Homo sapiens: one gene and its partners. The protein of the gene in region 3 binds, or shares a complex with, the protein of the main gene of each other region. Each region holds a gene or a part of one and is shown on either strand. Other genes may lie near its edges. The genes, in order: CORO2A, ZER1, TBL1X and GPS2.

The links.
Region 1: TBL1X (region 3) and CORO2A share a complex: the UniProt entries of both Homo sapiens proteins name them as parts of the N-Cor repressor complex.
Region 2: TBL1X (region 3) and ZER1 share a complex: the UniProt entries of both Homo sapiens proteins name them as parts of the E3 ubiquitin ligase complex.
Region 4: TBL1X (region 3) and GPS2 share a complex: the UniProt entries of both Homo sapiens proteins name them as parts of the N-Cor repressor complex.

The regions. Positions count from the first base shown.
Region 1 is NC_000009.12:98,189,625-98,196,735, reverse strand, and holds the start of CORO2A (coronin-2A), read left to right. Parts: upstream 1-4,098; 5' UTR 4,099-4,177; intron 4,178-7,111.
Region 2 is NC_000009.12:128,768,927-128,776,597, forward strand, and holds the start of ZER1 (protein zer-1 homolog), read right to left. Parts: upstream 3,002-7,671; 5' UTR 2,655-3,001; exon of another isoform or gene 2,232-2,654; intron 1-2,231. UniProt on the Homo sapiens protein: Serves as substrate adapter subunit in the E3 ubiquitin ligase complex ZYG11B-CUL2-Elongin BC. Acts to target substrates bearing N-terminal degrons for proteasomal degradation with the first four residues of substrates being the key recognition elements.
Region 3 is NC_000023.11:9,460,279-9,468,067, reverse strand, and holds the start of TBL1X (F-box-like/WD repeat-containing protein TBL1X), read right to left. Parts: upstream 3,011-7,789; 5' UTR 2,621-3,010; intron 1-2,620. UniProt on the Homo sapiens protein: F-box-like protein involved in the recruitment of the ubiquitin/19S proteasome complex to nuclear receptor-regulated transcription units. Plays an essential role in transcription activation mediated by nuclear receptors.
Region 4 is NC_000017.11:7,312,354-7,320,146, forward strand, and holds GPS2 (G protein pathway suppressor 2), read right to left. Parts: upstream 3,008-7,793; 5' UTR 2,978-3,007; intron 2,767-2,977; 5' UTR 2,700-2,766; coding exon 2,606-2,699; intron 2,245-2,605; coding exon 2,135-2,244; intron 2,051-2,134; coding exon 1,938-2,050; intron 1,807-1,937; coding exon 1,727-1,806; intron 1,636-1,726; coding exon 1,553-1,635; intron 1,369-1,552; coding exon 1,215-1,368; intron 1,117-1,214; coding exon 1,027-1,116; intron 939-1,026; coding exon 859-938; intron 772-858; coding exon 676-771; intron 487-675; coding exon 403-486; 3' UTR 308-402; downstream 1-307. Other genes in the region: NEURL4 (neuralized-like protein 4), read right to left, coding at 3,770-3,974, 4,852-5,017, 5,108-5,220, 5,435-5,579, 5,712-5,819, 5,916-6,003, 6,142-6,321, 6,697-6,855. UniProt on the Homo sapiens protein: Key regulator of inflammation, lipid metabolism and mitochondrion homeostasis that acts by inhibiting the activity of the ubiquitin-conjugating enzyme UBE2N/Ubc13, thereby inhibiting 'Lys-63'-linked ubiquitination.

The DNA of each region.
Region 1 (7,111 bases), on a different chromosome or scaffold from region 3:
AACATACAAAAAATTAGCCAGGCATGGTGGTGGGCACCTGTAATCCCAGCTACTCGGGAGGCTGAGGCAGGAGAATCACTTGAACCTGGGAGGTGGCGGTTGCGTGGAGCTGAGGTCGTGCCATTGCATTCCAGCTTGGGCAACAAGAGCGAAACTCTGTCACAAAAAAAAAAAAAAAAAAAAGAATCACCTGAGTAGTTTTTTAAAAATGTTGGTGCTAGGGTCCTATGCCTGGAGCCTGTGGTGGAGCCCAGGCATTCTGATACATGGAAGGGTTGGGGACACAGGACACGGGACACAGGGCTAACTGCCTCCTCAGGCCCTGACAGGGAGCTGGGATTGAGAACTGCTTGTCCTGCAGCATCAACTCACCCAGGCCAAGCTCAGGTTACCAACGAGTAGACAGGGCTCAGAGACATTAGCTAACCTATCCAAAGTGACACAGCCACTGGTTGAGCCATGCTCAAGCCTAGAGCCCTTACTGCAAAGCCAGGGAGGACTCCCCCAGCTTAACCCACCTGTGGAACCTAGAACACCTTCCCCAAGGACCTAGGGAAGGGGCATGCCTGGCCTGTGGCCTCCTGGGGATACCCTCAGAAGATAGTTCTAAGCCAAGGAAAACTAGAGGAAGAATTTCCTCATGGTTGCCTCACGCTGGGATTGTAGCACTATTTCTCCCCTTCATCAGAGACAACAAGAGAAGCATGATACCCACATGGCAAGGAGGCTGAGCAGGGACTGGTGGGCCCACCCCAGAGCATCTGTGCCTGCTGTTGCTGCCCCTGGGGCGCCTGCTTGCCCTTCCCTGCTCTTTCTGGAGGGTGTTTGGGGCCCACTCCTGGTGTCAGGTTCCTGGCCCGCACCACAGCTGTTGCCCCCTTCCCCTGGGGCTGCTGCCTTCCAGGGCTGGAGGATCCGATCCCTCTCAGCCCCACCTTCCCACCCTAGGGGACAGGACCTCATGCTCAAAGCATGCCTTCCCCAGGCCTTAGGCCCCCAGCAAGCTGTGGTCCGACCTGCTCTAAAGGAGAGGAAAAGGGAATTACCCAGGGAACCTCCCTGGGGCAACATCCCTAAGAATAAAGGGACTGGGTCAAAGGAGGTGGAAGGCCCCCCTCCCAACAACCCCTAACATAAGAGGTGCTCACTCACTTCCAGAGATTGCCCGTGTTCAAGGCTACTATCCTCCAAACACAGACCCCTCCCCAACCCCCAGGCACTGTCTCCTCATTCTTTCTCAACCCCCTCCCCCATGGACATGGGGCCATATCGTACAGAAAGTTCCATGTGGGGCAGATAGATGGAGAACTTGCCCCCCACCCCCACCACACACACACATATGTTCTGGTCCTGCACAAGATGTTTACCCACATATGGAAGATTAACAAAGCCAGCCATGTGGGTGCACTGGGAAGGAAGAGGGAGGTTTCCTGGCCCATCCCAATCCACACTAAGGCCTAATAGAAGATGCCAGGAGATGGGCCCAACTTTGGAACCAGATCTGCTATGTGGTTTTCTAGCTAGGGGATCCTGCGTAGGTCATGCCCACTGTGGCCTCAGTTTCCCCATGTGTGCAATCCTGCATCTGGACCAGGATTAGAGGGAGGGAAGGGGCAAGAGAGGAGGACACTCCCCAGCCACAGCAACCCCAGGAAGGGTCCCAGGTTCATTGCAGAGGTCTCCCTCTGGCTTATGGGTCCATATGCCCACAGCCCCCAGAGATGTCTCTGTCAAACCAGCTGTTCCCCAAACAGTCCCAGCCACCAACCACCATGGCACAGGGTAGGAAGATGCAGGTGCAAGCCTTGGAGGGCACATCCATAGGACATCTAGGAAGGCTAGGCCTGGAAGGATGAGTGGGTTTAGACAAGGGAGATGATGATTTGGGAAGAGAACTGCAGACAGAGCAAAGGCTCAGAGATGTCAGAGTGCAAGGCGAGTGGCATTGGCAGAGGTAGAAAGCCACACCAGAGATGCTGGCCCAAGCCCTAAGTGAATTAAGACATTCAAGGCCAGGCGTGGTGGCACGCACCTGTAATCCCAGCACTTTGGGAGGCCAAGGCAGGCAGATTGCTTGAGCCCAGGAGTTGGAGACCAGCCTGAGCAACGTGGCGAAACCCTATCTCTACAAAAAATATAAAAATTGGCTGGGCATGGTGGCACGCACCTGTAGTTCTAGCCATTCGGGAGGCTGAGGTGGGAGGATTGCTTGAGCTTGTGTGGTGGAGGCTGCAGCAAGCTAGGATTGTGCCACTGCACTCCAGCCTGGGCGACAGAACAAAACCATGCAAAAACAACAACAACAAAGTTATTCAGATGCCTTAGCCTGGGAAAGATCATGGTGCCCACCGTCCAGCTGTAATTCAAGTAAAAACCAAACCATGATTATAAAGAATTCCCACAATGTTCTGATTTCATCCATATGTTTGTTTGTTTGTTTGTTTGTTTGAGACAGAGTCCCACTCTGTAGCCCAGGCTGGAGTGCAGTGATGTGATCTCGGCTCACTGCCACCTCCACCTCCTAGGTTCAAGTGATTATCCTGCCTCAGCTTCCCAAGTAGCTGGAACTATAGGCACATGCCACCACGCCCGGCTAATTTTTGTATTTTTAGTAGAGACAGGTTTTCACCATGTTGGCCAGGCTGGTCTTGAACTCTTGAGCTCAAGCAATCCACCTGCCTTGGCCTCCCAAAGTGCTGGGATTACAAGCATGAGCCACTGCGCCCAGCCATCCATATGCTTGATACCCAACTCTTGCACGCTAACACCAGAAGCATGCGTTCAGTCTACCTGCTGGGCAATCCAGCTCCAGAAGGTCTGAATCAGAGCTGTAGGATGGGGTTTTCAGGACCATAGTGCACACTGGGCTTTGGGTGGTAGGCAGGGAGCCCGTCCAGCTCTGGGCAGGGGGGTGGTACAGTGGACTATGGAAGCTGAGTCACATTCTAAGGAGAGAATCAAGAGCTCCCTAAGTACCTTGCCACTCCAAGCCTCAGTTTTCTTATCTGTAAAATGGAGGTAATAATAGTGGCTAAATAAAGCCACTATTATTAGAAGCTTAGAAGAAACGATACAGATATGTAAAGTAGTAACAGTGTACTCTGTTATCCACTCCACAACTATATATTGAGTGGTTACTATGTGCCACGGAGCAGTTCAAGGCCCTCAAGATAACCCGTCTCTACTGAACAAAACCAAGAGCTCTTCACAGACGTGGTGTGGAGTGGAGTGGCTGTTAGCTTAGTAGCCGTGGGAGCCATACTGCCTGGGGTTGCATGACTAGCCGGGTGATCTTAACCTAGGTACTTAATATCTCTGTGCCTCAGCTCTTTTGTGTTAAATAGGTGAGTAATGGTATCAACCTCATAGGCCTGTGTGACAGTGAAGCGAGGTAATGCACAGAAGGCGCTTAGAGGAGTGCGTGGCTCAGTAGTGTTAGGTGGGGGTGGTACCCAAAGGTAGGGCCTCCCCATTGTCTAGTGTCCTCAGGGCTCTCCAGCCAGCGAGGCTGGCAGCAGCGCCCCCGGCTGGTCCCGAGAGAAGGAAGGGCGTCCTCCTCGGTTCCCAGCGGCGCTCCCGGCTCCTCTCCTCCCTGCGGACGGGGAAGCCTCGGTAACCGCTGTAACTGCTCGGGGAAAGGAGCGCTTCCCTGGCCGGGCTCGGCGCGCGCACTGTACCCGGCCGGGATCGTCACATCCAGGGCTCAAACAGCCTTAAGAGGCCGACGCGGTTACTGTCTCCATTTCACAACGGGGGAAACTGAGGCTCCGGGAGGTCAGGTTCCTCATCCCACACCACGCAGCGAGGGCACGGCGCGACGTGGGGCCCGCGGCTCTGCCTGTCCCCAGCCTCCGCCTGGTGGCCGGCAGCCCGCCCCAATCACTGCGGCGTGTGCGCGCCTGTTCCCAGCACGTGTGCGCGCCCCGAGACCCGCCCCGGGGAGCCAGGAGCGCGGTCGGGGTCGTGGGGGCGGAAAAGGGTGGCCAGGGCGGACCCGCGGGGCGGGCAAAAGGGCGGACCTTGGGCCAGGCCCCCGCCCCGCCCTCCGGCCCCGCCCGCCGGGCTGCAGGGGGAGGCGGCGGCGGCTCTGGGCGCCGGGAGTCGGCGGGCGGCGAGGAGCGCGGAGCCGGAGCTGGACGCCGCCGCCGCCACCGCCACCTGCGCGGCAGTCATCAAGGTAGGGCGGCCCTGCGCCGCCGGCCGTGCCTTCCCGGTCTGCGCGATGGGGGCGTCGGGCGGGACGTGCGCGCTGCGGCTGCAGCTCCCGGAGAGGGAGGGATGCGGGGCTCGGAGCGCGGGGGACCTGGCTTTCAGCCCCTTTGCGTGACCTTGCACAAAGCACTGCTCCTCTCCAGGCCTCAGTTTCCCCGTCAGGATAGCTTGCTCATTGGTGGCCCCCTTCTCGCGGGGTTGTTGGGAGGGGCCGCCTCGAGGTCCGGGCTCCCGACGGCTCGCTGCCCTCATGAGCACTGTCTGCACCGCCCACCCCTCCTGCCCGCGGTGAGGGAAGCTCACTCTGGGCGCGGCCAGCCGGTCCCGACAGGCCCCTGCTGTGGCCCGGGTGCTCCATGGGACTCTTGTCGGGACCCTCCCCCTCTTGGCTGCGTTACCTGCTGGGCCTCAGCTTCCTGGTACAGGAAACGGTGGGGTGGGGGGCATCCCCGGGTCCCCGCCAAGCCGGCCTGGGCGTGCATGTGGGGCATCAGCCGGCCCGCCAAGAGGGTTTACTCGTCTGGGGCTGGAGGAGCCCTAGGTTGGAGGTGGCTGGACTCCTGGCGGCACGACTGCCTGGACCAGCCCCACGTAGGCACCTCGATTTAGAGAGTGGTATAGGATAGCTCCTTCCCCTTCCCCACCCGGGCCAGGTGCTGGTGCCTAGCTCTGTGTCCCAGAGCTAGTGTGTGATAAGGTGTGACACACACTAGCTGGTGTGACAAGGGGTGACTGGCGGCCACGCCTGGACCTCAGAGGGGTGACAGTGCCAAGGTGCTGTGTCCGCGTGGCATTAAGGGATGGGGCAGAGCACAGGTCTGAGGGACTGTGGTCCCAGGCTCCCTAGGTAAAGAAGACCTATGGCATCTGGCCCAGCCCCTCTGTAAGATCCCCTCTGGAAGGTCTTGCTGCCCCCTTGCACACTCCTTGTGATAGGAATCTCACTAGTTGTAAACCAAGCTGGAATCTGCTACCCAGTCACTGCCTCTCCTGCTGGTCCTGCTCTGGACACACAAACAACCTCTGACCCTTCCTCCCTCACCCTGGGGCAGTGGTCAGGTCCCTTAAATATGCTCATCTCCAGACCCAGCAGCCCCAGGCCCAGCAGTTTCTCCCATCAGATCCCAGGGAGCCAAGGCAAGAAGAGGGAGCCGAGGTGTCTGCCCTGGAGCAGGCTGTGGGGCCTCCGCTTTCCTGGGGCTTGTTCAGAACCCACCTGTGCATCAGGACTGGAATGTGTCTCCCCAGCTTCCTGCCCCTCCTGGGGACCGTCTGAGAGGTCCGGAGTGAGGAGAGCCGGAGCCCCTCTGCAGGCCTTTCCTGCCCCATGGGGCCTCTTCTCCACCTCCCTGATGCCTGCCCTGTTTGAGGGAGCAGTTTCTAGGAATCACTTCTCAGCCTCCTGGTCTTTCTTGTCCCCTTCATGACCTGCCCTGCACCCAGGGATTTTCTTAACAGCCAAAAGAGGGCAGGAGGCCCCTGGACAGGTAGTGAGCTCTTTGTCATCACAGGTATTCAAGCAGAACCTGGGGGTGAGCTACCTTGGACTGAAAGTCTATGGAATTCTAGGGCTGAAGTAGTGCCTATGACCTTGCCCTGCGGCCATGGTGGAGCTGCACAGGACTGGGAGCTGGACCACAAATGAGTGTTATTATCCCCTCGTAAAAGCAGGCAAAGTATATGTGCTGGCCCATGAGCCCAGCTCCGACGCACAGGCTTAAGTGCTACCTGGGTCTCCTGTCATCTCGACACATGTATAATCTGGGCCCTGTTTTCCTGCTTGCCTAATTCAAGCCTTTTTGGCCTGATTTAGGAGCATGGCAGATTCTGGTTATTAAAAAGTCATGCTATGACTTTAATTGCTAATACTTTTTAAATGCACCATGGAATCATGGAATGTCTGAGCTGAAAGGAGCCTTCAGACGTCGTCTCATTCAACCCCCTCATTTTACAGATAGGCATCCCCTGTCGCCAGAGGGGATGTGACTGGGCAAAGGTCACACAGCAAACCAGCAACCGAGCCCAGGGATCCTGATTCCAAGATTGGAGTGCCTTTTTTTCTCCAAAAAAACACATAACATATAATAAATGAAAGCAGTCTGTATTTATTCCTGTAAAATTAGCAAAAATAAAAATAAAAAGATGAAACTCTGTGCTGGCAAGGCTATAGGGATTCGCCTGTGGCATTTAATTTTGCAGAGCAACCTGGCAGCCTGTTATCATGAAAATGATCATATTTGCCCTTTGCCCTTAGCCGGCTACTTTGGGGACTTTATCCTAAGGAAGTAACTAGGGAGAGAGACATATGTAGTGCTGTTATTTGTAAGAAGTTGTCTTCTGGCCAGGCACAGTGGCTCATGCCTGTAATCCTAGCACTTTAGGAGGCCAAGGTGGGCGGATCACCTGAGGTCTAGAGTTTGAGACCAGCCTGGGCAACATGATGAAATCCTGTCTGTACTAAAAATATAAAAATTAGCTGGGTGTGGTGGCACATGCCTGTAATCCCAGCTACTCGGGAGGCTGAGGCAGGAGAATCACTTGAACCCGGGAGGCAGAGGTGGCAGTGAGCCGAGATTGTGCCACTGCACTCCAGCCTGGGCGACAGAGCGAGACTCCATCTCAAAAAAAAAAAAAAATAAAGGAGTTGCCGTCTAGTGAAGAAGTGTTCAGTTTTATCTGAGGCTTAATAAACATTTCATTTGACAAATACAGCTTAAAAAATAGTGGCACTGAAGCTTACATTACCGGAGTCTGGCCAGCATAGAAACAGTTTAATCCAGAAGAAAGACCATGAGACTAAAGTCAGCAGACATAGATTCCAGATTGAAGTCTTCCTCTTCCCTACTGTGTGACCTTGGGCCGATCCGTTCCCCTCTCTGGACCTCACTTTCTCCATCTG
Region 2 (7,671 bases), on a different chromosome or scaffold from region 3:
GAAATTTGCTGGGCTCATTTTAATTCTTTTTTTTTTAGAGATAGGGTTTCCCTATGTTCTCCAGACTGGTCTCAAACTCCTGGCCTCAAGCGATCCTCCCAAAGCGCTGGCAGTGCTGGGCTCTTTTTTAAAAGTCCCCATCACCCTCCGCTGCTGTCAGAAAAGCCAGGACCAAGCTAACGTCTTCTCTGCAGAATATTAACCCAGTTACCTCTGAGGGGTGTCAAGAAGTTTCTGTCTTGCTTTCCCCAATATTTCCTCAAATCCTACTAGTTGATGGAGGCAGCTAGAGCTGGTGACACCACCAGCTAGTGCTAAAACGAACGGCTCTGAGGCAGACATACATGCCCACATTCCTCATCATCACATCATCCTCATCAGCGTGACCGCTATGTATTGAGCACTTTGTGTGAAATACTGCATTAAGCACTTCAGCCCATGATTTTATCTAATCCAACAGCCCTATTTTCTTTTCTTTTCTTTCTTTCTTTTTTTTTTTTTGAGATGGAGTTTCGCTCCTGTCGCCCAGGCTGGAGTGCTGCAGTGGCATGATCTCAGCTCACTTCAACCTCCACCTCCCAGGTTCAAGCGATTCTCCTGCCTCAGCCTCTCCAGTAGCTGAGATTACAGGCATGCGTCACCACACCCGGCTAATTTTTGTATTTTTAGTAGAGATGGGGTTTCACCATGTTGGCCAGGCTGGTCTCGAACTCCTGACCTCAGGTGATCCACCTGCCTCCCAAAGTGCTGGGATTACAGGTGTGAGCCACCACACCCAGCCTGCTGTATTTTCCAGATGAGAAGATTGAGGTGGAAAAAGGTCCCGTGCCCACCTTCTCACAACCAGGAAGCAGCGGCATAACTTAACTTGATTTAATCGCAGTTCTCTGTGACCATGATTCTTTGTATTTGTTCCATCAATGGTCATTACAAAGATGGAAGAAGGGTACTTACAACCGAAGCCCCAAGCACAATGGCCATTTGTCATCTAAAACAAATCTGTATTTTCTCCAACCACCAGACACTTCAACAAGTACGGTTCTGAAAGGGTGTCCCATTAGACACCCTGTGACCCTGTATCACAAGGACAGCCCCTGATGTCTTCCCCACCTTTTTCTGGTCCCCACTGTTCTCTGACTTTCTTGCCAACCACTCTTCCCTTTCTTCAACCTGCTCCAGTCCCCCATCCTCCCACTGTTTCTTTCTTTTTTTTGAGACAGAGTCTCACTCTTGTCACCCAGGCTGGAATGCAATGGGCACAATCTCGGCTCACTGCAACCTCCACCTCTCAGGTTCAAATAATTCTCCTGCCTCAGCCTCCTGAGTAACTTGGATTACAGACATGAGCCACCACGGCCAGCTAATTTTTTTTTTGGTACTTTTAGTAGAGATGGGGTTTCACCATGTCGGCCAGGCTGGTCTTGAACTCCTGACCTCAGGTGATCCGGCTGCCTCAGCCTCCCAAAGTGCTGGGATTACAAGCGTGAGCCCTTATGCTGTTTCTTCAAATCACCAGGCATATGACCACAGGACCTTTGCATTTGCTGCGGAATGCTCTGCCACAAGAGAACTACCTGGCTTGCTCCCTCACTTATCTCTGCTCAAAGGTCACCTTACTAGAGACCTTCCCTGAACACCCTCTATAAAATGACAACTCCCAACTCCTTCCCCATGGTCCTTCCTTCTCTATTTTTCTCCAAACCACTTATTACCTCCTTACATATCATGTTTATTATTTGCTGAATGAACAAATGAACCAAAGTAGCGAGGCCCTTCACCCCTGGCCACCACTTTCTGCTCTAAGTATAGCCTCCCGTGACCCTTTTCAAGGCTATGCTTTTATGCTCATCCTAACCAGTTTGAAGTCTGAAGAGAAACATTCTGTGAAAGATCATATATGGAAGGATTTTCCCAAGACATCAGACATTCCATTCCCCTCCCCCTTAAAAATCAAATGCACTAGCTGAGCGCGGTGGCTCATGCCTGTATTTCCAGCACTTTTGGAGGCTGGAGCGGGCGGATCACTTGAGCCCAGGAGTTCGAGACCAGCTTGGGTAACATAGTGAGACCCCATCTCTATTTAAAGAAAAACAAAACAAAACAAAACGAATGGACTGACAAACACAGGCAAAGACTGGAAATCTTGGGCTCTTTCGGTCAAAGAGCAGCCAAGACAAGTTCCACCCAGAGAGCTATAGTGGCCAGCACAGTCAGTTTCACTATCAACTCACCTGTCGGGCTCCCTTGGCCCTCCGGTTGCAACCTCACCCTGTTGGATTTCCCTATACTTTGTGTCATCCCTTTTGGGAGCTGATCCAGAATCCAAGTCGTCCTTGAGCTTCTAAGCACTTCTCTGGGGGAACTTAAGCTCATCCAACAGGTAGGAGGGGCAGAGGGTGGCCCTTTCAGCCCTACACCGATCCCCCATCTTGTAGGGGCAAACGACAGAGCGTCATTTTCTTTCTGGAGGAAGGGAGCTCAGTTTTAAAGACACGATTCTCAGACCTGGCGGCAGGGATAGAGAAAGGAACCCTCCCACCACTGGCGGAGATGGACCTCAGAGAGTGGTTGCAGCGGCGATGCTTAGGCCCCGTAGGCAGGAGGCGAAGGAGGAGGACGCAGGTACGTCCCTTGGCCCGGGGTCCGGGACCTACCCTGGACGGGGCTGCCCTCAGCGTCGGGAAGCGGACGTGATGCTTCGCAGGCGAGGAGGAGCAGAGAATGCAGCCCGGGAGAATCCGGGGCCAGAGCACCTCAGGAGGTTGGGGATCTCGTCAGGCTAGAGCCGGGGTCCAGGGGAGACGGGGGTCGGCGGGGCGGAGCTTGGGATCCCGGGGACGGGAGCTCCGGGAGGGAGGGGGTCGCGACGGGGACCCCGTGGCGGTTACCTTGCCCTTAGGGCTGCCGGCGGGGCTGAGGCTCCTGGGCCCGGCCCCTCCCCCGATCCGGCTCCTACGGCTCGGAGCCTGCAGCCGCCGCCGCCTCCGCTGTCAACAAACCCGGGGCGCGTCACTTCCGGGGCCGCCCCTTAGCAACAGCGATCGGGTTCCCCCGACCCGTCCCGCGGCTAACGCGGGCGGCGGCGGCAGAAGGTTCCGGGGACCGGCGGGCGGCTCCTTTCCCCGGGCCCGGCACGTTACGCCGGTGGAGGAAGCCGCGGGATGCCCCCCCCAGGCCACCCGAGAGAACGCGTCATTCAGGGCTCTCCCTGGCCTCCGAGGGGCCTGTTCGTGGGACCCTAGGATCGGTGCCCGCCCTGGCGCTGCGGTTCACCTGAGCCCAACACTGCTGAATAGCAGGACTGACTCTGGGCGCCAGCCCCCTCCATCCAGCGCCCTGTTGAACATGTCTTGCGTTCTCCACGGGTGGCTCACACTCGCGTGTCAACCCGCAGTCATCACCGTCCCCCAAAAGGTGCTCCTAACCTCCATCTAGGGCATGCGCCACCAGGCAACCGAGCTTCCAAATGGGAAATTGGGCGGCGACCTCGGCCCCTACATTTTCCTGGGCCCCTCGTCCAGTCTCCAAGTCCTAAGGATCCTGTCAAACCAGTTCCTTCTGGCCGAGCGCAGTGGCTCACGCCTGTAATCCCAGCACTTTGGGAGGCCGAGGCACGCGGATCACCTGAGGTCAAGAGTTCGAGACCAGCCTGGCCAACATGGTGAAACGCCGTCTTTACTAAAAATACAAAAATTAGCCGAGCGTGGTGGTGCGCGCCTCTAATCCCAGCTACTCAGGAGACTGAAGCAGGAGAATCGTTTGAACCCAGGAGGCAGAGCTTGCAGTAAGCTGAGATCGCACCACTGCACTCCAGCCTGGGCGACAGAGGAAGACTCCATCTCAAAACACCATCATTTCTTCTCTGGATTTCTCTTTTTTTTTTTTTTTTTTGAGAGACGGAGTTTCTCTCTCTTGTTGCCCAGGCTGGCGGGCAATGGCCCTCAGCTCACTGCAGACTCCCCGGGTTCAAGCAATTCTCCTGCCTCAGCCTCCAAGTAGCTGGGATTACAGGCGCCTACTATCACGTCTGGCTAATTTTTGTATTTTTAGTAGAGATGGGGTTTCGCCATGTTGGGCAGGCTGGTCTCAAACTCTTGACCTCAGGTGATGCGCCCACCTCAGCCTCCCAAAGTGCTGGGATTACAGGCGTGAGCTACCACACCCTAGCTAGATGCTCCTTTCTTGAGGAACCCTTTCTTGACAGGTGCCTCAGTTCCATTCCAAGAACTAATTTTGTGGATTTCTTTTTTCTTGCATAGCACCTTTTAATCTTTGACCAGCTACAACTATGTTCGTACAGTCTTGAATCCTTAAAAAAGCTGTTGGGCTTGGCACAGTGACTCACAACCTATAATCTCAGCAGATGGGGTTGTCGAGGCTGAGGCTTGAGCCCAGGAGTTGGAGATCAGCCTGGGCAACATAGGGAGACCCCATTTCTACAAAAATTAGCAGGGCATGGTGGTGCGCATCTGTAGTCCCAGCTACTCGGGAGGCTGAAGTTGGAGGATTGCTTGAGCCCAGGAGGTGGGGAGGTACGGTTTTATGCTCCTTAAGATGGACATCATCAGAGAGACAATAACAAATGTTGACGAGGATATGGCTAGATGGGAACTCTCATATTAATACATTGCTTGGGCCAGGCGTCGTGGCTCAAGCCTGTTATATCAGCACTTTGGAAGGCCAAGGCAGGCAGATCACGAGGTCAAGAGTTTGAGACCAGCCTGGCCAACATGGTGAAACCCCGTCTCTACTAAAAATACAAAAATTAGCTGGGCATAGTGGCGCACGCCTGTAATCCCAGCTACTTGGGAACTTGGGAGACTGAGGTAGGAGAATCGCTTGAACCTGGGAGGCAGAGTTTGCAGTGAGCCAAGATTGTGCCATTGCACTCCAGCCAGGGCAACAGGAGTGAAACTCTGTTTCACAAGAAAAAAAAAAAAAGCCCGGTTTGGTGGCTCACGCCTGTAATCCCAGCACTTTGGGAGGCTGAGGTGGCCTGATTGCCTGAGCTCAGCAGTTCGAGAACAGCCTGGGCAACACGGTGAAACCCTGTCTTTACTAAAATAAAAAATTTTAAAAAATTATCCAGGTGTGGCAGCATGTGCCTATAGTCCCAGCCACTCTGGAGGCTGAGGCAGGAGAATTGCTTAAACCCTGGGGGCGGAGGTTGCAGTGAACGGAGATCACGCCGCTGCACGCCAGCCTGGGCAACACTGTGAGACTCTGTCTCAAACAAAAGAAAAAGAAAGAAAACAGAAAACAAATAGGAAATAAGAAACAAATAACAGGCCAGGCGCGGTGGCTCATGCCTGTAGTCCCAGCACTTTGGGAGGCCGAGGCGGGCAGATCACGAGGTCAGGAGACCGAGACCATCCTGGCTAACATGGTGAAACCCGGTCTCTACTAAAAATACAAAAAAATTAGCCGGGTGTGGTGGCAGGCGCCTGTAGTCCCAGCTACTCGGGAGGCTGAGGCAGGAGAATGGTGTGAACCTGGGAGGCGGAGCTTGCAGGGAGCCGAGATGGCGCCACTACACTCCAGCCTGGGCAACAGAGCGAGACTCCGTCTCAAAAAAAAAAAAAAAAAAAAAGAAACAAATAGCAAAATGGGCTTAGATTAAACCAGGAAAATAATCATAGTGAATGTAAGGGTCTAAACACTTTAAGTAAAAGGCAGAGTTTGTCACATTGCATAGAAAAGCAAGCCCCAGGCTCATGCCTGTAATCCCAGCACTTTGGGAGGCTCAGGTGGGCGGATCACTTGAGGCCAGGAGTTTGAGACAAGATGGACAACATAGTGAAACACTGTCTCTACTAAAAATACAAAAAAAAAAAAAAAAAAATTAGCCAGGCGTAGTGGCATTTGCCTGTAGTCCCAGGTACTTGGGAGGCTGAGGCCAGACTGGGTGACAGAGCAAGACTCTGTCTCAAAAAAAAAAAAAGAAAGTAGGAAGGAAGGAAAGAGAGAGAGAGAGAAAGAGGGAAAGAGAGAAAGACAAGAAAGGAAAAAAAGAGAGAGAAAGAAAGAAAGAAGGGAAGGAAGGAAAGAGGGAAAGAGAGAAGGAAAGAAAAAGAAAGAAAGAAAGAAAAAGAAAGAAAGGAGGAGAAGAAGAAGAAGAGAGAGAGGGAAGGAGGGAGGAAGGAAGGAAGGGAAAGAAGGAAGGAGAGAGAGAGGAAAAGAGAGAAAGAAAAGAAGAAGGAAGAGAGAGAGAAAGAAAAAAGAGAGAGAGAGAAAGAAAGAAAAAAGAAAAGAGCGAGCTGGGCAGAGCAGCTCACACTTGTAATCCCAGCACTTTGGGAGGCTGAGGCGGGCAGATCACCTGAGGTCAGGAGTTCACGACCATCCTGACCAACATGGAGAAAACCCATCTCTACTAAAAATACAAAATTAGCCGGGCGTGGCGGCGCATGCCTGTAATCCCAGCTACTCAGGAGGCTGAGGTAGGAGAATTTCTTGAACCCGGGAAGTGGAGGTTGCAGTGCGCTGAGATGGCATCATTGCATTCCAGCCTGGGCAACAAGAACGAAATTCCATCTCAAAAAAAAAAAAAAATGGCTGGGCACAGTGGCTCATGCCTTCATGCCTGTAATCCCAGCACTTTGGGAGGCCGAGGCTGGTGGATCATGAGGTCAAGAGATCAAGACCATCCCTGGCCAATGTGGTGATACCCTGTCTCTACTAAAAATACAAAAATTAGCTGGGTGTGGTGGTGCATGCCTGTAGTTCTAGCTACTTGGGAGGCTAGGGCAGGAGAATCACTTGAACCCAGAAGGCAGAGTTTGTGGTTAGCCAAGATGGCGCCAATGCACTTCAGCCTGGGCAACATGAGCGAAACTCCATCTCAAAAAAAAAAAAAAAAAGAAAGAAAGAAAGAAAAGAAAGAAAGAAAGAAAGACAAGCTCTCACTTTGGGAGGCTAAAGTGGGAGGGTCACTTGAATCCAGGAGTTTGAGACGAGCAAGGGAAATATAGTGAGATCCTGTCTCTACAAAAAATTTAAAAATTAGTGAGGTATGGTGGCATATGCCTGTAGTCCCAGCTACTCAGGAGGATCTCTTGAACCCAGAGGGTTGAGGCTTTAGTAAGTCATGATGGTGCACTGCACTCCAGCCTGGGTGACAGAAGGAGACCCTGCCTCTAAAATTTTTACTTTTAAAAAAGCAAGCCCCAACAAAATGCTGCCTATAATAAGCCCACTTTAAATGTAAAGACAGAAATAGGTTCAAAGTAAGAGGCTGAAAAAAGATATAGTTTCGATATAGCAAGCCAAATTCAGCAGCATATTAAAATAGCAATATACTATGACCAAGTGAGATGTGGGAATGGGATTTATTGTTGGAATTCAAGGATGGTTCAACGTATGAAAATCAAGTACTGTAGGCTGGGCTCAGTGGCTTATGCCTGTAATCCCAGCAATTTGGGAGCCTGAGGCGGGCAGATCACCTGAGGTCAGGAATTTGAGACTAGCCTGGTCAATATGGTGAAACCCCGTCTCTACTAAAAATACAAAAATTAGCCAAGCATGGTGGCAGGTGGCTGTAGTCCCAGCTACTCAGGAGGCCCAGGCAGAAGAATCGCTTGAACCTGGGAGGTGGAGGTTGCAGTGCGCTGAGATCAAGCCACTGCACTCCAGCCTGGGTGACAGAGCAAGACTCCATCTCAAAAAAAAAAA
Region 3 (7,789 bases):
GTTTCCAATTCACTTCTGCAACCTTCAGGCATGCGGTGGATTCTCCCTAAATACTGGATGGCGATGGCTGTGTGGGAGGGGGCCAGCTTGGGAGGCGCAGGCATCTGAAGTCAGGCTCCCGCTGGCCAGGCAGGCAGCAGCCCGGCGGACTCCTTAACGGCTGTCTTTCTCCCCTGGAGATCTGAAACGTCTCTCCTCAGCCTAGGCTCTTTGCCCTTTAGAAACATGTGGACTTCTTCGGCCCCTTCCCATATCCAGCTTTTCTTTTGGTTCTGGTGGGTTTCATGTTTGCCAGTCTGGCCAGCATGGTCCATGTGGTCGAGCCCCACAGAAAGTGAGGGCGGGAGTGGAGGGGGCAAGACCGGAGGTAAAAACTCGAGTCCAGTCTCCGGCTAACTAAAAATAGTTATGGGGGAAAAAAGTTTATCTTTCCAACTAAAAAAAAAAAAGTGTTTACAATATGCCTTTAGTGTTGCTTCCTGGGTGGAACTGATTTTTCAATGCATGTGGTAGTGAAAGATTAACAACTTCTCGGATGTAGCATATTAGGTTTTTTTGCTTTTCCTAAGGGAGGAAAAAAAGCAAATCCAAGGCATCAGGAAAGCAGTGGGAGGATGGTCCTGCCTCGCTGGGCAGAGAAGCTGTGCTGATCAGCTAAGCCAGGAGGCCCACAGGGCACTGCTGCGGGGCAGAGCACCGGAATCTGGACGCCCTGCAGAAAACTGGGAGGGGGCCGGACCCAGGTTCTAGCGGAGGTGTGCTCCTATCCAGCAGGAGTAGATCGGATAATCTGAATTCCTGACCCTCGGGACCTGCTGGAGATGGCCTCCCTCTGCAGGGACCATTTTCCCGCCTCTGTTCGTCACCTTAAAAGGTGAAAAAAAATCTTCTAACTAAGATGATGTTGTACAGAACCAGTGGTACTGATATAATTGATGGGAAAACTCCAGAAATTGAAACATTCACTTCTAAGTATGTCTACAATAAAGTTATTTTTGCAAACTGTTTCCTCTTTAAAACCACTGACAGAGAGAAGTTCTCTGAGGTAAAGGGGCAAAATGCCTGAGAGTTGGGGAGCGAGGGTGGCAGCACTACACCACAAATCTCCATATTTGCCCTACAGGTGTGTGTTCTACTAAGGGCTGGAATCGCCTTAAGGGCCGGTGATCCAGTGATGAACAACTTTTGTTGTTTGCATTAGTTACCCAGCTTGGTGGCTTTCCACAAAAATGTGCAGCACATTTGAGACAGGACTACCCTTTAAAATAAACGCGTCATACTCAACGTTCTTCTGTATTTTATTTTTCCTAATTACATCTTTTCTAGGAAGGACTTGTAAACTTTTCATAAAATCGTCAAGTGCCACTTCCAACACCAAAGCCACTGCCTGGAACCTTAGCAGGGAGGTTGCCTTCCTTCCCCCTCGCCTTCCAGGTTAAACCAGGGACTGGGCGATGTTTCAGGAGAGGAAAACATCCAAAAGGCAGGTCAAACCACACATGACAATGCAAAGCAGAAACAGTTGCAAATACAATAGAGGGTAGGTTTTTGTTTCTTTTTAGGTTTTGCTCCAGAACATCACTGACTCGAGAATAAACGTCAGTCCCTACCTTTGTGGAACGTCCAACGCAGCTGGCTGGGGGAACACGAGGCCTTGCAGGGAGCGAGCCCCGGCCCCGGTCTGACGGAACACAGGCGACGCACGTGAAGTCCAGGCCCTATCCCAGCGCAGGCGGGCCTCCAGCGACCCACAGTTGTCACATATCCGGCCAGCGCCGACTCCCGAAGGCGCACTCCCCATACTCCACTCCGAGCACCGGTCCCATCGTTAGGGAAGGTCCCCCTGGATAGCAAGGCCGGGGCCCAGGATCTGCGAGACCCACCCCACCCGCCCCGTCAGAGCCCAGGAGCAGCAACAGGTCTGCGCTCTCCCCGGGCGGCGCTCTGCAGACCCTCGACGGGCCAAGGGTGCCCCCAGCCCAGCCGTGCGCTCAGGCCGGGGAGATGGGCGGAGGACTGGGGCTCCCGACTTCCTTGACAGTTTCTGCGCGTCAGAAACTGAGCAGACACGGGGCCCGCGCCACCTCGCCCGCCGCTTGCCCCACTCCGCGAGGCTGCGCTTCCACCCGGGTCCGGGAGGGCCGGCCCGCGTCCCGGGTATGAATGGGGCTCTTCTCCCCAACAGCGGGGAAATCCCGCCACCGCCCTCCACCCCGGTCCCCGGAGCCCGCGGTGGCGCAGGTTTGCCCAGCAAGCCCCTGAATCGGCAGACAAAGGGGCACCGGAGGAAAAGCCGAGCGCTTCCCTAAACTTACCGGCCACTTCCCCCTCCCCAAAACAAAGGAGCCCCCCGCCGACCTCCGTCTCTCCCCGCAAGGCGCGCCGGCACTTCGGGGAGCGGCCACCTCGGGGTATTGTTCAGGCTCCTGGGAGCGCGCCGCACCCCAGTCCGAGCGCCGCGGGGACAGTTGGCGACCTGCACCTACAGGAGTTCCAGGGGCGGGTGGAGCGTTCGGGCGCCCCGAGCCGCCGGCCGGACCCTGGAGGGTCAGCGCGGGACCCGCCTCCCCGCAGAAGTTTGCGGACCCCGCGCCCGGCCCGCCGAGCCCTGCGCACTCACCTCGTCGCGAGCAGCGCAACTTGTGGCGGCGCCGCGCGCCCGGCCGCGCTCCGAACCTCCCTCCAGCCGGCAGCCTCCGAGTCCCGGCCGTGCGGCGGCCGAAGAGGGCCCGGCGCCCCGGAGCAGCCGCGCGCCGCCCCCGGGCCGCCCCCGCCCCGCCGCCGCCGAGTCCCGGAGAGAGCGCGGGCGCTGGAAAGTTTCGGTGGCGAATGGCGGCCTGAGGGCGCTGCGGCGGCGGCGGGGCGGGGGCGCTGGCGGCTCCTCGCTCCCAAGCGCGGAGTGGGGGCGCTGAGGCGGGCGCGGCGGCGGCGGCGGCGGCAGCGGGAGAGGGCGGGACAGCGGGAGGGACTGGCACGGACAGTGACCTCCACGGGGAGCTGCCGCGAGCGCGCGGACCCCAGCCAGGAGGACCGCCAGGGGTCCGCCCCCGCCGCCGGCCCCTCCCTCACGGCCGTGGGAGGGGACCCGGCGTACCACCCGGCCCCGCCCCTGCGCCCCGGGGGAGCCGCGTCCCGAACCAGCCCCTCCCCTACGAGGGTAGGGACTCCGGCCCTGCCCCTCCCCCGCGGCTCCTAGTGGGGACCCGCGTCCCAACCCAGCCCCTGTCCCACGGTCGGGGGACCAGCGTCCCTACCAAGCCCGCCCCGCTCCCCCACGCCTAGGGTGGGTGAGGGGAACCCGGGCCTCTCCCTAGTTGCTCTGGTCCCGGTCCCTTCCCCGTGGCCTCCGTGGGACTGAGAGGACCCCAGGGCTACCCCCATCACATCCCAAACCCAGCCTTTCCACGACTGCCTCGAGGGGACGGGAACCTCGGCCACCCCCTCAGTTTCTAGGGGGCAGGGGAACCTCGATCACTGCTAAAGTGTTACCCTCCCCCACCCCAAAAAGGAAGCCACCCGGCTGCCCCAACAGAACCCCCTGCCACCTGCCCGATGGTGAATCTCCCTCAAAATCGGCGTCTTAGAAGACACCCCAGTAGTCTTTACCCCAGCTCAAAAAGTGGGGGTTCCGGCGGAGCCTCGACCTTTGCAAAACACCTCCCAAGAAGAGCCAGAAATGCTTAGGGACAAACTCAGACACACAGGCATAGGCGCCAGGAACTCGGGTGTGGGGGCTGAGGAGGTTGGGGGGACCTGGGCACTCGGGCCTCATCACTCCCACCCCAACCCCCCAGGCATCAGCCCTCTGGCCCTTGCAAAGTGCTTTATGTTGCAATGGCTTACACGGCCTGGCCCCGGTGTACCTAAGTCCCCAGCGCTCCTTCCTCCCCTCCACGTAGGCTACTCCCAACCACTCGCAGCCTTAATTCAGTTAAACAGATCTCCACTCCCCCTCCCCAGCACCTCTGGGGTCAGCCTCGTTGAATATTTTTCAAATATTCTTGCCCCTTCCTTTACTATATAATGAGCTTCGTGCTAAGAGCCCGGTACACTCAGCAATCTAAACTATAACCTCACTTGCTCTTCCTCGAACTCTAGACCATTTGTTGTTCTGGTTGTAGGGGGAGGGGGACCTAAGGTGAGGTTTTTGTTTTTTTGTTTTTGTTTTTGTTTTTCTGAGGAGTCTCGCTCTGTCGCCCAAGCTGGAGTGCAGTGGCGCGCTGTCGGCTCATTGCAACCTCCACCACCCTGGTTCAAGCAATTCCCCTGCCTCAGCCTCCCGAGTAGCTGGGATTACAGGCGCATGCCACCACGCCCAGCTAATTTTTTTTGTATTTTTAGTAGAGACGGGGTTTCACCATATTGGCCAGACTGGTCTGAACTCCTGACCTCAGGCAATCCGCCGGCCTCGGCCTCCCAAAGTGCTGGGATTACAGGCGTGAGCCACCGTGCCCGGCCGGAGGTGAGTTTTTAAGAGGCCGGTCCTCCACCAAAACGGCGGACCTCAAAATTACCCTGCAAAATATTGCTGTAAAACGTCAATGATGCAAAACGACTGTTGCTACACCATCATTAGAGGACATCAATAAAAAAATACACACTTACACAGTCTCCATAATTGTGAATCAGCAGAATAGATTGTGTCTTATTATGTATCAGTTGCCATTCAAGGCCCCCCAGAAGGACATGGTGGGGCCTTCCCTTGAGCCTGCCCTTCGTTGCTCCTGGGCTCCCTGGGCTTGTGCAGACTGATGCTGAGGTATTACATGCAATAGAAAAACGAAGGGTGCAATAGAAAACCCGAACGAGCTCATGATGCAACCCTGCCCTGGCTACACGTGCTTCCCTTCCCCCACCGCCTGCTGGTGGGAGTGCTGCGTTTTTTCCGCCTGTAGGGTCACATTGTGGTTGATTGATTCTCCTTTCGCCTTGCTCAGTCATTCAGATTTGGAAAGTAAATAACAAGTTGACATCATTACAGCTCTGGGCTTTACGCGGACGCAGCCCTCGGCTACCGCACACTCTGGAGTAGCTGCGCAGCCAACCAGCCTCCTAGCTTGCCAGACCTGCTTGTGGTTAGCAGTTGGAAATTCCAAGCTAAACTTGGTTAAAAGGCCTCTTTGTGTGTTTTGATTACTTGGCAGATGCCAGTCTTTTAAAGTATGGGAAAGTGGTGGAAATCCTCACTTTCAAACTGGAGCCCAGTGTGGCCAGGATTTACAGCTGAGCTCCTGTAATTGACAATGCAAAAGAGCTGAGAATTCATCTTGACTGTTTGACAATATCCCCATAATCCCACCACCCTTATTACCCGTAAAGAGTCAATATCTTTTATCATAGACTCACAGGACCCCAAAGGACACTGTAAGACCTAAGACAGGAAGAGAGACCGCCTACATTTATCGTGAAATCACCAAAATTCCTCTTTTTGAAATACTAGATGGACTGTAGGTGGGTGATAATTAGACTGTGTTATTTAATCTGTTTCAACGATTTTTCAAATGTGCAGTCCTATAAGGTGGGAGAAAACAAGGAAATAAAGTAGAGCGGCAAGGAGGTAGTGTATTCTGAGAAAGCTAAAGGATAACAGGGCGAGGGGTCCACAGTGATTTACACAGAAACCCACTGCACTAGCCATGTGCGTGTGTGCGCGTGTGTGTGTTGCAAACACTTATTTTCAGTTATTGACTGGAGGGAGGGGAAAACAAGAATCTGCTTGCAACAAATACTACCAGCATTCCCCATAAACAGTACCCAAAATTTTAATTAAAAGGCAGTAGGAATTCACACAAATATACTTAACTAATCTTTCACAAAGGAGCAAAGGCAATTCATCCTTTTTAACAAGTGGTGCTGGAACAACTGGACACCCATATGCCAAAAAAAAAAAAAAAACTAGGCTTTTTATCTTTCACAAAAATTAACTTAAAATAGAACATACCCCCAAATGTAAAAGGCAAAACTATAAAAACTCTTAGAAGATAACATAGAAAATCTAGATGACCTTGGGTTTGGTAATGACTGTGTAGCTAGAACACCAAAAGCATGATGCGTAAAAGAAAAAAAAATTGGTAAGTTGGGCATCACTAAAATTTGAAAAGTCTACAAAAGACACTGTTAAGAGAATGAGAAGACAAGTCACAGAATGGGAGGAAATATTTGCAAATTCCATATCTGATTAAGGATTGTATTTGAAATATGCAGGCCAGCATAGTGGCTCACACCTGTTGAGGCTGCTGTGAGCTGTGATCTCACCACTGCACTCCAGCCTGGGCGACAGAGAAGACCTTGTCTCTAATTTTTTTTTAGAGTGTGTGTGTGTGTGTGTGTGTGTGTGTGTGTGTGCGTGTACAGATATATGTACATATGTGTATATGTATGTGTATATATATATACATATTTCTTAAAACTCCACGATGAGAAAATAAACAACTGAATCAAAGAGCAAACGATCAGAAAAAAACTCATCAAAGAGATATACAGATGGCAAGTAAGCATATGAAAAGATGCTGAACATCATATATCATTAGGGAATTGCAAGTTAAAGTAACAATGAGATACTACTACATACATTAGAATGGCTAAAATCCAGAAAACTGACAATCCCAGATGCTGACAGGATGCAGAACAACAGCAACTCTCATTTGTTGCTAATGGGAATGCACAATTGTACAGCTACTTCAGAAGACAGTTCGGCAATTTCCTACAAAGCCAAACAGAGTCTTACCATACAGTCAGCCGTTGTGCCCCTAGGTATTTACCTAACTAAGCTGAAAACTTACGTGCTCCAAAAACCTGCACACAGAGGTTTATGGCACCTTTACTCGTAATCACCAAACACTGGAAGCAACCAAAGTATCCTTCACTGGGCGAATGGATAAACAAACTGTGGCTCACCCGCATAATGGAATATTACTCAGCACTACAAAGAAATGGGTTATCAAGCCCCCAAAACACACAAAGGAACCTTAAATGCCTATTGCTAAGTGAAAGAAGCCAGTCTGAAAAGGCCATATACTGTATGATTCCAACCATATGACATTCTGGAAAAGGGGAAACAGATAAGACAACAATAAGATCAGTGGTTGCCAGGGGTTCAAGGAGGAAGAAGGGATGAATGGGTGGAACACAGTGGGTTTTTACAGTGGTGAAACTATTCTGTGTAATACTATGATGGTGGATACACGTTATTATACATATAAGTGTGTGTGTGTATATATATTTGTCAAAATTCACAAAATGTACAACACAAAGAGGAAACCCTCATGTAACTATGGACTTTAATTAATAATAATATATGAATACTGGCTCCTTAGTTGTTACAAATGTACCACACTAACTTAAGATGTTAATAACACTGGAAGCTGGGGAGAGAAACATGTAACTCTGCACTATCGGCTCAGTTGTTCTGCAAATCTAAAGCTCTTCTTAAAAAAAAGCCTATTATTTATTTTTTTTTAAAAAAGAAACACTGTGCCAAATGCTGTGGCTCACACCTGTAATCCTAGCATTTTGGAAGGCTGAGGCAGGAGAATCACTTGAGCCCAGGAGTTCAAGACCGGCTTGGACAACACAGTGAGATCCCATCTCTACAAAAAACAAAAATAAAAAAATTAGCTGGGTATGGTGATCTGAGCTTGTAGTCCCAGCTACTTACTTGGGAGGCTGAGGCAGGAGGAACAGTTGAGCCTAGGAGTTCAAGGCTGCAGTGAGCTATAACCGTGCCACTGCACTCCAGCCTAGGTGACAGAGCAAGACTCTGTCTCTTAAAAAAGAAAGAAAGAAAGAA
Region 4 (7,793 bases), on a different chromosome or scaffold from region 3:
TGGGAGGGCCCTGCCCCCATGGGCTTTACCCTTCCCTGCGGGCTCTCTCCCCGACACATTTGTTAAAATCAAACCTGAATAAAACTACAAGTTTAATATGAAGCCCCCAACTCAGCTGCTTATTTGAATTAAATGGGTGTATTTGGAAGCCACAAAAAGACTGAACTCTGCCACTGAGTTCACTGGAACCCGCTGTCTATCACTTTGACTTGCTGTGGACCTGCCAGCCATCCCCCCACCCTCCAAGCAACCTTGACCTATTCCAGACAGTTGGGTGGGAGGCAACACAAACAGCAGCAGCCAGGGGCAGTGGCAGGTAGATTTTATTGGCCTGGGACACACAGGGGATACCCTCACCCACGATGGGGTGGGGGGTGTGGTGTTGAAGATATAATCTGATGGTCACTTGTGGTAGAATCGCGGGTTCTGGCTGTGTTGGATGAAGGGGAGCCGAGGGCCAGGTTGGCTGGTAGCTGCAAAGCCCGACTGGTGGTGGTGATGAAAAGAGGGCTTTGTCACTGGGCATACTCTCCCTTCCACTTAATACCCTACTGATAACCACCCCCAAAGAGGAAGGAAAAACCAGATGATGTGGGCCACCTGTCCTACCTAATCCTGCTTTTCCGGATCCCTAGTGTAGGGATTCTGACAGGTAAATTCTATTACCATTCTTACCTTTCCTGCTGGCTGCATCTGCACAGGGAGCTGGGGGGAAGCAAGGAGTCCAGGGGCTGGATGCAGAGCCTGGGGGTGCATGGGGCGCAGAGAGGACTGCAGAGAACAGAGTCAGGGCCTGAGGCATACTGAAGCTCCCCTTAACATATCCCTAACCCTGACCTCCCAAGGTGCCATACTCACTGAGTCGGAGAAGCCAGTCTGCTGGTTAGCATGTTCCATCTGCTTTTGCAAGGACAGGGCACCACCAGGCTGGAGGAAACCTAGGTGGGGAAGAGGGGCATGTGAGATGAGAATGAAACAGGGAGGGGAGGACCTGAGAGCTAGAGCTCCTGCATGGGATGTTATCACCTGTCTGAGTGGGCTGAAAGTGGCCATGCACAGCATAGGGCTGTGGCTGTGGCTGAGATAGGTACTGCACTGCAGGGAATGCCGAAGGAGCTGAGAAAGGAAAAGACAGAGCCATTAAAATCTTTTACTGAATGGCATTCCTCCTTTGACCTTGAGGAAGGCCAAGCCCCATCCCTCCTATTACTCACCTCTGAGCTGCTGACTAGGACTATAAGCTGGCTGTGTGGGCCCATAGTGAGGTGGGGGCTGAGCAGTCCCATAGGCACCACCAGGACTGCCTTGGAATTGTCCATGCTCTGGTGTCCCTGCAAAAGCAGCTGCTGAGCCCACGTAGTGCCGGGTCTAAGGAAGGAGAATGAGAACTCGCCTACAAACTCCTTGAAAGCTGAAACCCAGTGACTTGTGTGTATCTGTATGCCCCGTTTCCCCCTAAACTTAAGTGCTTGATATGTTTGTGACTTGAATACTGGTGGCAAGGATGCATGGATGGAAGTACTAGGGGCTAGGCATCCAATCCTACTCTCACCGTAAGCACTTGGGGTCCAAACATTTGTTTGGCTCTGTCAGCTGCCATGAGGGTGCCTGGGCGATTGTGTCCTCCAGGGCTCCCTAGAAAGGGAGAAGGGCTTCATGATGCTGAAATGGGAGGCTGTGACCTCCAAGAAGGCCGGTTCCATCTGGTGGTTTCTTTAGTCCTCACCCTGCATGCTGAGGAGATGAGTTCCTGTGTGAACAGTCAGGCTCTGCTGGTATGCAGCTGATGTTAGGGTGGTCAGGTCACTGGAGTGAAAGGAAGACAGGTCAAAGTCAAGGACAGATGCCTTCTCTTTTGCCATTAAACACTGGTTCTTTTACTACCTGATCCCAGTTCCACTTGGCCCCCATTTCAGTTTTTAGCACTCTGATCCCACCTCTGTTCCTTTCGCCTCCGTTTTTCTTCCTCATGTAAAACTTTCTTGAGCTGCAGGAAAAGCTGGTGCTTCTCTTCCTGTAGAGCCAAAAGCTTCTCCTCCAACTTCAGAATCTGGGATGGGGTGGGAAAAGAAGATGAAGGCAGGGAGAGTCAAACGAAGAAATCAAAGCTGGGAAAGTTCAAGGGACTGCTTACTTGTTCCTTGGTCTCCTCTAATGACATTCTCTCTTCCATCTCCTTTTTCTTCCTTCTCTCCTGTTCTTCCTTCATCTTCTGTTCCATCATCTTATCCACCTCTTCTTCCTCTGGAGAATCAGGCAGAATGAAGAAGAGGCAGGGTAGTGAAAACAATTCCAACGTTACAGATTGAAGACCAGCAAAACCCAGTCATCCCAACACGCCTGTATGCTCTTTGCCTCGAGGGGACAAGCTCCCCATCGCGGCAATAGGGAACGGAAAGGCTTTATCAGGTGCTCTCCAAGGTCCTTCCCATCTCAAGGGTTCTGGAGCGTGGAACAGGACGCTTAAATCCCACCACAACGGGGCTATTCCTTCCCTCCTCTGCGCTCGGCAGCGGGCGCGCTGGTTGGCCGGTGGGTTGAGGCCAGCCTTGAGGTACAGGAGCCATTCTGGGCCGTGCGTCCCCCTGCTATGGCCCCGGCTCACCCTGCCGCTTGCGCTCCCGCTCCATCATAATGTGCCGGTGCAGCGCCCTGGCCATGGCGTTGGAAAGCTTGGGGCGCTCCAGGAGTGCGGGCATGGTGCTGCCGTGGGCGCTCGGGCCGTGGGCGCCCGGCTGTCTCTGACTGCCAGACCTCAGACGGGGCCTGCGGGGAGGCGGGCGCTCAGAGGGGGCCGCGCCCGGCCCAGGCGGAAGCCCGTCCGCCCGGCCCGCTCGCCGCCCCGGTCACGTGTCCCAGGAGCCCGCCACCCGGCCGGGACCGCAGCCCCAGTCCCACCGCGCGCGGGCGGCGCCGGGGTCCCCGGCTCGCTGCTGCCGCTCCCTGCCCAGCCAGCGCGGACGACTGCCCTTCCTACCCGCCTTCTCTGCGCTTTCTCAGCGGCTCCGACGCGCCCTGGCCCCTGCGTCACATCCGGCGGCCCGGCCGAGTCCTTCCGGAGTCACGGCGGCGGCCGACCTCACAGGTGAAAGAAGGCGGAAGCGCGCTGCGACGGGTGCCCGCGGCGTACAAACCCCGTCGCCGGGAACGTGAGCGACGACGGCTGCAGACTGGCCTTGGCATCCTCAGCTCTCTTTAATTTCGCGGGCCCACCTGGTGGCACCCCAGGGGACGCGGGCTCCGGAGAGGGGCGCGCGAGAGAGAGGCCGAGGCGGAGGCTCTGAGACGGTGTTTATTGGCTCCTTAGAAATCAGAGTCAGTAACAACTGTACAGAGGCCCCCATCTTCCGTGCGCCCACCCTTCCCCACTCCCGCCCGGTGGCCCCGGAAAAAGCAGCTTCATGTGGGCACAGGGAGAGACTCCTCTGGGATTCACAGTAACCAGAAACAAAAACGGAAATAAATTAAGTGATGTGGGGTAGGGGAGTAAAAGGGAGTCATGTTCCCCAAATCAGTGCATGAAGAGGGGTACCAGGGCCTGGAGCTGGGCTCCCACGACTCCTCCCATCAGACGGAGTGCTGGGCCTCCGGACATGGAGCTGTGCCACTTGCCACCTACATCTGAGAGCCTGCCTACATGCTCCTGCGCGGCTGCCAAGCTCCAGCACCTGCGCATGCCACGAGTCACGGGAATGAGGTGGAGGCAGTCGCCACTCAGAGTCCATGGGCCCGCGGCCCGACTGTGCTTGTAGTAGTGGTGTCTCACCCCTCATTCCACCCGTACCAGCAGGGCACAGAGGAGTGTGGCCCCCTTCTCCTTAGTGACCCACTCAAGTTCGGCTGGACTGAAGTGAGGGTCAGGAGGTTCTCCAAGGGCAGCGGAAGGGGGTCCCGGGGTGTAGGAGCCAGGGCGCACACACACCTGGAACGCCACCTGAGCCTGGTGCGTCCGCTGGGATTTGGGGTCCCGGAATCTGTCAGACAAGAAAAAATAAGGGAGTGAAGCCTCTCGCCCCATCACCTCCCCCTTGCAAAGTCTGTTCCAACCACACAAGCCTTGCTGTACCTAGGAAATACTCCCACCTTATGGGAACTTCGCTCTAGCTGTTCTACCTGAAATGCTCTTCCTCCCAAAGCCTGCTCAGCTACACCCTTCACTTCCTTCTTCAAGCCTTTGCTCGAATCTCTCCCACCTTCTTAGGATGTCCACACCAACCGCACTGCTGTCTCCGCCCCATTCTTTCTCTGTTTCCATAGTCCTTACTTATTACCTTTAAAAATACTAAATACTGGCGGGGCGCGGTGGCTCACGCCTGTCCCAGCCCTTTGGGAGGCCGAGGTGGGCGGATCACGAGGTCAGGAGATCGAGACCATCCTGGCCAACATGGCGAAACCCCGTCTCTACTAAAAATACAAAAATTATCCGGGCTTGGTGGTGCGTGCCTGTAGTCCCAGCTACTCAGGAGGCTGAGGCAGGAGAATCGCTTGAACCCAGGAGGTGGAGGTTGCAGTGAGATCACGCCACTGCACTCCAGCCTGGGTGACAGAGCAGGACTCCGTCTCAAAAAAAATAAAAATAAAAATAAATAAATAAATAATACTTATTACGTATGAACATTGTAGAGAGAAAAGGCAGAAGTTCCACAAGAGCAAGGTTCCTTTTTTTGCCCACTAGAAGAGTATATAAGTAGTATTTGTTCAATGAATGAAGAAAGGGCTGAGTTGGAGACTGGCAGCTAGCAAGACGAGATGAGAAAAGGGGAGGGCGAATCATGAAGACCCCAGTGGCTGCGCTTGGGCCCTCTCCATCCGAGCCCCTGGAAATCTCTCCCCACCCCTCCCAGTACTCACTGCACTTTGGAGGCCAGGGTCTCCGCCCCAGCATATTGAAGGGAGGGGGAAAGCAGCACAGGAGGGGGCTGCTCCTCCCGAGGAGGTGCACAGTTCTCGCCAGGCTCCTCGAACCCTACCCCAGGTTCTCCCTTCAAAGGACGGCAGCTCAGGATGGAGGCAGTACCTGGGAGGAGAACTGGGTCAGGATAGCCCTTTTTATTCCTCCACAGCCCCCCAGGCTCAGCCCACCTTGCATGGGCCTACTCGCCAGTACCTGCTCCCAGCTCCCCTCGGTCCAGCACTCTCCGTACAGCGGCAACATTGCTCCCGTGATATGCCATGTGCCACTTCTTGGTTAGTGTCCCAGCCTCCAGGCGGGGATTCACTCTAGGAGGTGGACAAGCGGGGCAGATACAACGAAGGCCACTGACTCCCCAGTGGAGGAGCTTCACGAGGCTCTTCCTTAGACAGGAAGTCCCTGGCACTTCCTGGCTTTTCCTTAGACAGGAAGTTCTATTACTTCTTCCATGCACCCTCTTGGGATCCCCGTTTCTCCAGGGGGAAAACAGTAGGGGAAAGGCATGACCTTGCCCATATGTACCTGAGGTTGAACCTGCACCAGCCAAAGGGCAGTGCATATTCCCGGGGAGGCTCCCCTCTGCGCCTGTGGGCCTCGTCTCCTCGCAGCTTCCGGCAAGACTCACAGTAGCACAGGCTTCGCTTTGGCGGAGGCATGAAATAATCTTCTGCGGGACAGTGAGTAGCAGGCTTGGTGCTGTGGCTCCCACCTCAACCACAGTGGCACCCTCCAGCTGCTCTCCAAGGCTCTAGGCCTGGCCCTGGGAATGAAGTCAGTTCTGGCGGACTGTGGGACTCACCGGGAAGCAGCAGGAGTTCTTGGAAGCGAGAGCAAAGGGCATGGTACTCGCAGCTCTTTAGAGGACTAGCGGCAGGTGGTGGACCCCAGCACACACTCTCTTTGATACCTGAGGGAGCAGAGGGGCACAGGTCACAGGAGCTGGGCTAGAAGGGTGAGGGTGGGGGAGTAGGGGCAGGAGCTGGGTCCCTTTGGGCTGGCACACCGTCCACCATGTCTGCTTTCTCCATGTCCCCTTGGGTTCCAGCACTTTTCCCACTGGCAGCCCCTGGCTCAGGGTTCACGATTGTCACCTGCAGGGGAGAGGGTAGTCAGACAGAGCTTGGTCAGACCCCAGGGCCTGCTGATCCCTCCCTGGAACAGAGATTTCCCCTGTCCTGGACAGCGCAGACTCTCAGGCACCCCTCCTCCCTGCCCCCACTGCCACTAACCTGCTCACACTGCCCATAGAGGTCCACAAGCGCATGGCAGGGCTGGGGCACATCTGGCACAGCTACCCCCTGGTCCACCCCATTAACATGAAGATGCAGCCCCCCAGAGCTGTCCAGCCGCAGTCCCAGGATGGTGCCTTCAGGGCACGTGTCCAGATTGGGCCCAAACTTCTCGCAGATCTGGGAGGAGAGACCGGCTGTCTTCCAGAGGTCAGACTCCACCGCGGCAGCTGTCCCGCCCTTTGCTCTGCTTCCTTTTGCCAGTGCCTTGGCTTTGCCTCCATGCTTGCCCACTGCCGAGGTTCTCCTCCCACTGCAGTTACCTAGAGCCCCTCCCCTTCCCCAAAACTGGCACATTCTCAATGGCAGGGACACCGCAGGAAGCAGCAGGCCTAAGACTGACCAGGCAATGCTACTCGCCCTTGCCTGCCCATTACTGTTCCCCTTTTACACCTGTGGTCCTACCTCCAAGGCTAGGGGCCCACTTCTCCCTTCTGGCCAGCCCTTCTCTACTCACAGGCCTGGTCCTGTTCCTTCTCTCTGGCTCCTACTCACCTTGAGACCGTTGTGGAAGACCCCACGGCCCCGCAGCAGCCAGGCTGCCCGTTTGAGGGCACAGGCAGAAGCAGGGAAGTTGAGCCTCTCAGGCGCGCAGGTGATGACTCCCAGGACAAGGGAAGATGTCCACTGTCGGTTTAGGAAATCTATCCGCACCTGGGGAAGAAAGAACTACTCCATAATCACAGCCTCCTGGGAAGAACCAGGCTCCGCACCCCAGCCAGAGAGGGAATACTGCACCTCCCAGAATGTGGCCTGGGATGCTGCCTTTTCTTATGCTTGGAAGGACCAGAAAACGCTAATTTAGTTGTTTCTTTCCCTCTTTTTTTTTTTTTTTTTTTTTTTTTTTTTAAAAAAAAGAACCGCCAGCCGGGCATGGTGACCCACACTGTAATCCCAGCACTTTGGGAGGCTGAGGTGGGTGGATCACCTGAGGTCAGGAGTTTGAGACCAGCCTGACCAACATGGTGAAACTCCGTCTCTACTAAAAATACAAAATTAGCCGGGCGTAGTGTCATATGCCTGTAGTCCCAGCTACTTGGGAGGCTGAGGCAGAAGAATCGCTTGAACCCGGGAGGTGGAGGTTGCGGTGAGCCGAGATCATACCATTGCACTCTAGCCTGGGCGACAAGAGCTAAACTCCGTCTCAAAAAAAACAAAAAAACAAAAAAACAAAAAAAAAACATGCTGTTTGAGCCTTGACCTTGCTGTTGCCTCTGTAAGGATCTCTAAGGATTCTTATTCCTAGGACTTCCTTCACCTAGCTAGTTTTCTTTTCCTTTCTTTTTTTTTATTGAGACGGAGTCTCGCTCTGTTGCCCAGGCTGGAGTGCAGCGGTGCGATCTCGGCTCACTGCAAGCTCCGCCTCCTGGGTTCAAGCCATTCTCCTGCCTCAGCCTCCCGAGTAGCTGGGACTACAGGCGCCCGCCACCACGCCCGGCTAATTTTTTGTATTTTTTAGTAGAGACGGGGTTTCACCGTGTTAGCCAGGATGGTCTTGATCTCCTGATCTCGTGATCTGCCCGCCTCGGCCTTCCAAAGTGTTGCGATTACAGGCATGAGCCACTGAGCCTGGCCTTTTTTTCTTTTTTTTT